Homo sapiens: one gene and its partner. The protein of the gene in region 2 purifies or fractionates together with the protein of the main gene of each other region. This does not show direct contact. Each region holds a gene or a part of one and is shown on either strand. Other genes may lie near its edges.

Region 1 (4,259 bases), on a different chromosome or scaffold from region 2:
GGGAGGCTGAGGCAGGAGAATGGCGTGAACCCAGGAGGTGGAGCTTGCAGTGAGCCGAGTCACGCCACTGCACTCCAGCTTGGGCAACAGAGCGAGACTCCATCTCAAAAAAAAAAAAAAAAAAAAAAAAAAAAAGAAAAGGAGATGAGAAAATGAAAGGAAGATAGAGGTAAAAATACAATTTGTATGTTCACACTAAACTGCCGTGGGTCCTTATAATCAGAAAATTTCGTAGCTGGAAAAGAGCTACCAAGAAAACTTGGGGCCTAAAGGTTAAGTTACTTTTTCTTTTTTCCCCCGAGACAAGAGTCTTGCTCTGTTGCCCAGACCTAGAGTGCAGTGGCATGATCTTGGCTTACTGCAACCTCCACCTCCTGGGTTCAAGCAATTCTCTTGCCTCAGCCTCCCAAGTAGCTGGGATTACAGGTGTGTGCCACTATGCCTGGCTAATTTTTGTATTTTTAGTAGAGATGGGGTTTCACCATGTTGGCCAGACTGGTCTTTAACTTCTGACCTCGTGATCCACCCGCCTCAGCCTCCCAAAGTGCTGGGATTACAGGCATGAGCCACCGCGCCCAGCCATAAGTGACTTTTTCAAATACCCTCAGCAAGTTAACGGCACAGCTAAGGTCTTTTGTACCCCAGTCTAGTTTCTGACATCCAAACCAATGCTTCTCAACCACAGTTACAGGTAAGAATTACCTGGGGCCTTTAAAAATCCCTATGCCCAAGCTATATATACTCCAGACTAAATTAAAATCTTGGAGTTGTGGGACTGAGGTATCAGTATTTATTTTTTATTTTTTAGCAAGAAGAGGAGCACAGAGAATATTTTTTTAAAAATATAGAGCACTTCGGCCAGGCGCCAGTGGCTCAGGCCTGTAATTGCAGCACTTTGGGAAGCCGAGGTGGGCGGATCACTTGAGGTCAGGAGTTCCAGACCAGCCTGGCTAACATGGTACAACCCCATCTCTACTAAAAATATATTTTAAAAAATGAGTCAGGCATTGTGGTGAGCACCTGTAATCCCAGATACTTGGGAGGCTGAAGCATGAGAATTGCTTGAACCCAGGAGGTGGAGGTTGCAGTGAGCTGAGATTGTGCCACGGCACTCCAGCCTGGGCGACAGCGTGAAACCCTGTCTCAAAAAAAAAAAAAAAAAAAAAAGTATATATATACATACACACAGAGAGAGAGACAGAGAGAGAGAATTCATGAATTTGCAAGTCATCCTGGTGCAGGGGCCATGCTAATCTTCTCTCTATTGTTCCCATTTTATATACGTGCTGCCAAAGTGGGCACTGTATTTTTTTAGTTTCTAATGTGAAGCCATGTTAAAAACTGCTGTCCTAGATTGTGATGCTCCCAATGATAATCAAGGCACAGATAAGGAGAATTCTGTGAATAGGTTTATTAAGACCACCTAGGAGAACCTCTTTGGCAACTACCACAAATTCTAGGCCATTTAAAATCCAGGCCAAGTTCATATTTGCTCTCCATGATCACCATTACAACAACCACAGGTCACACAGTATTACAGAACAAAAGCATGGTCACTTTATTTTACCCAAATGCAAATCGTTTTTCACAACCAAGACTTTTTTCTTTCCTACAATGTTACAAATGATGTATCCAAGTCCGACTGTAATTTGGAGTTAAACAGGGATCATAGAACCAAGGAATTATCTCTGAAGCTGCTCTTTGGGCCACTGTGCCACCCCAACAGCTCTATCCTGTTGTTCTTTTTTTTAATTAAAAAATCATTAAAAAAAAAATGGAGATGGGGTCTTGCTATACTGCCCAGGCTGATCTTGAACTCTTGGGCTCAGACGTACCGATATACTGATCCTCCCGCCTCAGCCTTCCAAAGTGTTGGGATTACAAGTGTGAGCCATTGCACTCAGCCATCTCTACACACTGTTTTTCAAGGAAAGGCAGCTACACCTATTCCGTCTCCAAACCAACCCTCACCTGGTGTCCAGTTTTCTTGGAAGTCTCAATTTTTCTCATGACAGCACATTACCTAATACCTACCACATTAGGATGTTAACTCATAAAAACATACTACAAAAGCTTTAAAAAACATTTATTTGTATTAAGTAAGTGCAACAGTGCAAAGAAACTTATGCATTTGGGCCCTTGCTTCCCTACTGTTCACATTAGTTTAGTTTAGAAGATTAAGTATAATAACAGAAGGAGAACAGAAGAAATGAATATAAATATACTCAGGGTAGCCAAATCCTCTAATTCACTAAAGGATGAACCAAAGTTGTTGGCCAGATTCACATTTATGTGGGAGCCTAAACAAATTATGTTCCCTTTAACTGTTCTAGGCCTGTGGAAAAGGGAAGTGGACAACATTTATATTACAAGACAGTAATTTTATTGAAACATCTTTTTTTGTCTAAAACTATGCATGGAGATATTAATCTCTTGTTTATAAATTAGGTTAAGTCTAACATCACTATTTGAAACCAGTGTTATTTACAAAAATGAACCTCTTCTTTGCTTTATTGTTGGTTTACAGGAATAATTTTAAACCAACCTCAATCTATCTTTAAAAATCTTCCTGCCTTCAAATGCCCAGCAACCCTTATAAGGTAGGGGGCAGCCCTTTGACAGCAACATTCATCATTCACCAGGAATGTAGAACCACAAGTGAACAACAACAACAACAACAACAAGATTAAATCATTCCCAACAATTCCTATTTGCTTTTCCAAAGCATGCTATGTCTAATTCTGCCTTTCTATGCAGACAGGTGGGAGAGGGAGCCCATAGAGTATATTAATGTTAATTAAATTAACTTCCTTTAAAAGCTAACAGGATGGCTTAGTGTGGATGAGGATGAACTGCTGTGGATGACACTAGCAGATAATGAAGTAAACTTTAAACCCAGATTAGTAACATGTACTCCAGTAACTGACCAGCTCAGATAGAGACTTCTCATTTACTCTGGATCACATGTACAATATTTTACCTTCCAATTAAATATAGTGCCAAAATCTTTCAAAATAGATAGAGAATAGGCTTCTTAGAAATTCAAATAAAAATGTTAAATAATAAAAACTGGTGGCCTATTATAGAGTTTCTGACAGACTCCAATATACTGGGTACCAGAAAGTAACTCTATCTCAGATGCTAGTAAAAAGGTAAATTTTGTATATACATAAAAGACAATATTACGAGACTGTAGTGTCATTTGTCAAAACAAGAATATCTAGAATGGAATTTTCAGTAAACACTTGGGATGAAGGGCAATCAGAATACAAGAGGAAGCAAAATCCACATAAGTTAATTCCTAATTTGAGAAATCAATAGAATCAATAAATTGATAATTACTGTCTCCATAGGTCACGAATTCCAAAGACTAGTTAGTAGTTAGTTTCTAACTAAATGATTACAGGACGTTCTGATATATGCTGTCTTCTTGTGATCAGTTTGTTCTGGCAAGACTTCAACAAGCACTTGCCCTTGAAAACAGCTCAGCGGGAGAACGATCGGAGGCAATCACTTCGTTTTATAAACTAGCCAGATAATAAGTCCCAAGATTAGAATAATCACTGACAGGACAAGCACCAGGATACACATCTTCTTGCGAGATTTTTTCTGAGGAAAGAAATATGTAAACAAGATACTCATGAAACAAGTAAAATTTGTATGTGTAAGACTCTAAGAATGCTTCATAAATCTGCCTCCTTGTAATTAAAGATTAACTCTATCCATGCAAAATTATGCACAGACTTTCCCAGAAATCTTAAGTCAGCAGCACTAGGTAGTAGTGCAAGTGTTTTTTGTTTGTTTGGTGTTTTTTTTTTTCTTGAGACAGAGTCTCACTCCGTCACCCAGGCTGGAGTGCCGTGGTGCGATCTTGGCTAACTGAAACCTCCACCTTCCAGGTTCAAGTGATTCTAATGTCTCAGCCTCCTGAGCAGCTGGAATTACAGGCGTGTGCCACTATGCCCAGCTAGTTTTTGTATTTTTAGTAGAGACGGGGTTTCACCAGTGTTGGCCAGGCTGATCTCGAACTCCTGACCTCAAGTGATCTACCTGCCTCGGCTTCCCAAAGGGCTGGGATTACAGGCGTGGGCCACCGCACCCAGCCGAGTAGTATAGGTTTCAAAGTTTTAATTCCAAGTCCCCACATACAATTTTGCAAAGGAACTATACCTGTGCTGCCAGGCATTATTTGCAATAAAATAAGTTATTTGTGCATGTGTATTTTAATAACATTTTATAATACGTATAAAACTGTTATG
Region 2 (5,294 bases):
TCTTCTTTTTTAATGGGATTATTTGTTATTTTCCTTTTGAGTTGTTCGAGTTCCTTGTATGTTCTGGATATCAGTCCTCTGCTTGATGAATACTTTGCAAATATTTTCTCCCATTCAACAGGTTGTCTCTTCATTCTGTTGATTATTCTTTTGCTGTGCAGAAGCTTTTTAGTTTGCTTAAGTCCCATTTGTTTAGTTTTCTTTATGTTACCTGGGCTTTTGATGTCTTAATCATAAATTCTTTGCTTACACCAATGTCCAGGAGTGTTTTCCCTAGACTTTCTTGTAGTATTTTTATAGTTTTGGGTCTTAAAATCTTCAATCCATTTTGAGTTGATTTTTGTATATGGTGAGAGATAGGGGTCTAGTTTCACACTTCTGCATGAAGTTATGCAATTTTCCCAGCATCATTTATTGAAGACAGTGTCCTTTCCTTAGTGTGAGTTCTTGTCAGTGTTGTTGAAGATCATTTGTCTATAATTATGTGGTTTTATTTCTGGATTCTCTATTCTGTTCCATTGGTCTACATGTCTATTTTTATACCAATACCATGCTGTTTTGGTTACTATAGCTTTATAATATATTTTGAAGTCAGATAATGTGATGTCTGCAGCTTTGTTCTTTTTGCCCAGGTTTGGTTTGGTTGTTTGGGCTTTTTTCTTTTTCCTTTTTTGGTCCCATATGAATCACATTGGTATTTTGATAGGGATTTCATTGAATCTGTAGATTGCTTTGGCAATATGGTCATTTTAGTGATATTAATTCTTTCCACAAGCATAGGATGTTTTTTGATTTATTTTCTTTCATTGGTGTTTTGTAGTTTTCTTTGTAGAGATCTTTCACCTCCTTAGTTAAATGTATTCCTAGGTTTTTGTTTGTTTTCGGTAGCTATTGTAAATGGGATTGCCTTCTTAATTTCTTTCTTGGCTAGATCCTTATTGATGTATAGAAATGCTACTGATTTAAAGGTTTTCTAAACCTACAGATATATAATCAGCAAAGAGACAATTTGACTTTCTCTTGTCCAGTTTGGATGCCTTTCATTTCTTTCTCTTGTCTGATTGTTCTGGCTAGGATTTCCAGTACTGTGGTGAATAGGAGTGGTGAAAATGGGCATCCCTGCCTCATTCCAGCTTTTAGAAGAAAGATCTCACCTCTCCTCATTCAGTATGATGTTAGCTCTGGGTTTGTTGTGTATAGACTTTATTATTTTGAGATATATTCCTTCTATGCCTAATTTGTTGAGAGTTTTTTTAATCATGAAGGGATGTTGAATTTTATCAAATGTTTTTGTTGTTGTTGCAATACTCTTTTTTTTTTTTTTTTTTTTTTTTTTTTGAGACAGAGTCTTGTTCTGTTGCCCAGGCTGTAGTGCAGTGGCGCGATCTTGGCTCACTGCAACCTCCACTCACTGGGTTCAAGCAATTCTCCTGCCTCAGCATCCCTAGTAGCTGGGATTACAGGCCTGTGCTACCACACCCAGCTAATTTTTCTATTTTTAGTAGAGACAGGGTTTTGCTATGTTGGCCAGGCTGGTCTCGAACTCCTGACCTCAAGTGATTTGCCTGCCTTGGCCTACCAAAGTGCTGGGATTACAGGCGTGAGGCACTGAGCCCGGCTGTTGCGATACTCTTAATGGGTTTTATATTTCCTTTTTGTGGGGGACAGTTTATTTTGCATTCTTACTACTTTTGATATTCTGACATCATCTTATAAGTGGGATTTATATTCACTATGTAATTGAAGTTTTTTCCAATGAAGCACCGTATATAGTTTATCTGGGAAATTGGCTGAAGAATAAAATGTGTGATGTTATTCAGTGTACAGTTTCTAGGTCATCAGAAGATACCACTACCTTCCCACTACTGGAAAAGAAAAAAGAAAAGTTTTCCACAGTGCCTGAACTGTTTTGTATGCTTATCTTTTAAAATTGCCAGAAATCTCACTTACTGGAGATTCAGCAGTCCCTTTCTGAAAATACACATACTTTAGTGCAAATAAAGCCAGTGGATCTCTTTCTTCATAAGTCCTTAAACCTAGTCGAGGTCATCTGTTTGGCAGAGATAGGAGTAAGATAATGTGAAATAGGAACCAACGAGAGAGAACTTGCTTAGGAGTTGAAAGGGGTATGGAAAGATGTTAGAGGTAAAATTTGTCGAATCTAGTGTTTTGACTAGGGCAGGCCAGAATATTCAGTATCAGTATCAATATCAGAAGCTTTTGTAGCCTTTGTTTAGAAACCTAGTCATTTATAACATTTTGTGGGTGAATGACATCATTACCAAACAAACTTTCAGATGAAACTTTGGAACTCAAGCTGTAAATTGTGGATAGCTCATGTGCAGTACTACAAATCAAAACAAATACTATAAAGTGTTTGGTAGTCCATTTCCTGAATGAAAGTTTGTCCAAAGTATATCAACTTTCTGCAGTCTTACATGCAGTAGTTATTAGTTTTGTGTATCGCTTTAGTGGATATTTTTAAAAGTATCTTCAAATGCAATGAATTTTAGGAAACAAAACAATTCTTTAAAGCATCATTAGATAGCTTCTTCTTTCTGAAACCCAGAGGAATTTATGTATAGGATGACTCTTTTTTTCAAGTAGTTAAGTTAAGGTGCAAAAGTATAAGGTAAAGTATATTATCTTACCATTGAAAATTTTGGCAGTGGCAGAAGAGCGAACCCTTACAAATACCTTCATTGGGCAATACACTAAGCACTTGCTGTAATGCTTTTTAAAACATCTATACTCTGGCTGTGGTATTTTAAGTGAAAATCTCTCAGTGAGATACTCTTTCGTATTTTAGTACTGATATCCTTAATATTGCTCTGAGAGCTACCTTATACTGACTTCAGTTTCCTAGTGATTTAAACTACTAATTTCCAACTTATTTTTTTTTATAGTGAAAACTAAATATTCCTTTTGTAGATGTAACCATTTCTGGAAGCCCTAAGTATTTTTGAATGAGTATAATTCATGCACACTTTAAGAGATTTCAAGCATGACAAGCACAGTGAATAACATATATCCATGTGATTACCACTGAGGTTTAAGAAATGTTAACATATGATATCTGCTTCAGATATTTATCTTTTTAAAAATAGAACATTACAGCTGGGCATGGTGGCTCACACTTGTAATCCCAGCACTTTGGGAGGCTGAGGCTGGTGGATCACCTGAGGTCGGGAGTTCGAGACCAGCCTGGCTGACATGGAGAAACCCCGTCTCTACTAAAAATACAAAATTAGCCGGGCATGGTGGCACATGCCTGTAATCCCAGCTACTCGAGAGGCTGAGGCAGGAGAATCGCTTGAACCTGGGAGGCAGAGGTTGCGGTGAGCGAGATCACAACTCCAGCCTGGGCCACAAGAGTGAAACTCAGTCTCAAAAATAATAATAATAAATAAAAAATAGAACATTACAGATCCAATTGACTCTTCTTTGTATTGCTCCTTTTTTTTTTTTTTTTTAGTTTTATTTAAAAATTTTTTTTAGAGGCTGAGTCTCACTTGGTGGCCTGGGCTGGAGTGCAGTGGCGCAGTCATAGCTCACTGCAGCTTCACACTCCTGAGCTCGAGCAATCTTCCTGCTTCAGCTTCCTGAGTAGCTTGGACTAGCAGAGGTGTGCCACCACATCTGGCTAATTAAAAAAAAGTTTTTAGAGATAGGATCTCTCTGTGTTGCTCAGGTTAGTCTCAACACCTGGCCTCAAGTGATCCTCCCACCTCAGCCTCCTGAGTAGCTGTGGTTGTAGGTGGCAGCCACCACACCTGGCAGTATCCCTTCTTGAGACCACTGACCTTTCCCAGAAGTAATCACTGTCCTGAAGTTGGTATAGATTCTTTCTGTCTACATCTATGCATGTTTATGCTCAAAAACAATATATTGCTTTGTGTGTCTTTAAAATGTATATAATGGTTTTATGCTATATCTTTCTTTCTGCAACCTGCATTTTTCACTTAAAATAATTTTGAAATTTAGTCCTGTGGATATATAGTGAGCCAATTAATTCTGCTTAGCTACTCTGTAGTCTGTTTTGTGAATATACCACAATCATCTACTTTCTTATTAGAGGACAATTTAGGCAGTTCCAATTTTATTTTTCCCGGAATGTACATTATTTTAGTCGAGTGCCATTGCCACATTAGCGATATTTTGGTTAGTGAGGGACTGCAGATAGGAAGGTGATCCCAAAAGATTATAATGCCATATATTTACTCTACCTTTCTATATTTACATATGTTTAGTTACACAATTACCCATTATGTTACAGTTGCTTACAGCATTTGGTGCTGTAACATGCTGTACAGGTTTGTAGCCTAGGAGCAATAGGCTATACCATATAGGTTTGTGTAAGTACGCTCTATGATATTCATATAACGATGAAATCACCTAGTGACACATTTCTCAGAATGTATCCCTATTGTTAAGCAACACATGAGTGTGTGTCTCCATGCATATATGTGTAAGAGTTAGCATGTGTGTCCAGAGGTAGAATTGCTGGGCGATAAGTCATACTCATCTTTACCTAGTTATGCCAGTTTATACTGTCACTAGCAGTATATGAGTACCTGTTATTTATATCCTCTCCAACACTTAATATTGCTGACATTTTAACTTTTACAATATAATAGGTGTAAAACTATTGTTTAAATTTGCATGTTGTCCTCATTACTAGTGAGATTAAGCATTTTTCATATTGGTCATTGGGATTTCCCCTTCTGTGAATTACTTTTGTATATTTGCTCATTTTTTCTGTTGGGCTGTGTATTTTTTTAGTGATTTGTATAATTTTTCGTTTTTTGGGGGGTAGGGTATGCTTTGGATTCTAATCCTTTGTTGTAAATAGCTTCTCTCAGACAGTGATGGTCTTTTCATGATGTTTATAGAGTGTTGGATTTAAATTTTATAGTTATAATTACCCTTTTTTTTTTTTTACCTTGGTGATTTGTGCTTTTATGTGTTTTTCAGGAAATCTTTCTCCACCCTGAAGTCATTTTCTTATAAAAGTTTTAAAATTTTGCCTTGCACATTTTGGTGATTGATCAGGAATTTATTTTTGTGTTTGGTGTGAATTATGAACTAATTTTATCTTTTCCATATGTATAACCAGTTGTCTCAATATCATTTATTGAGTCCATTTTTTTCCTTTACTGATTTGCAATGCTATCTCTGTATTATATCCAGTTCCCATATATGTGTGGGTCTAAGTGTCGACTCTATTCCGTTTCATAATTCTTTTTGTCCATATTTGCATCAATAACACTGTTTTAATTGCTGTAGCTTTAAAA

The links. Proteins that work in one complex are often made in the same cells at the same time.
Region 1: the proteins of NSF (region 2) and STX12 purify together in Homo sapiens (co-immunoprecipitation; 4 studies listed by BioGRID and IntAct, with this or other methods). This does not show direct contact.

The regions. Positions count from the first base shown.
Region 1 is NC_000001.11:27,821,581-27,825,839, reverse strand, and holds the end of STX12 (syntaxin-12), read right to left. Parts: intron 3,610-4,259; coding exon 3,511-3,609; 3' UTR 1,397-3,510; downstream 1-1,396. UniProt on the Homo sapiens protein: SNARE promoting fusion of transport vesicles with target membranes. Together with SNARE STX6, promotes movement of vesicles from endosomes to the cell membrane, and may therefore function in the endocytic recycling pathway.
Region 2 is NC_000017.11:46,596,479-46,601,772, forward strand, and holds part of NSF (vesicle-fusing ATPase), read left to right. Parts: intron 1-5,294.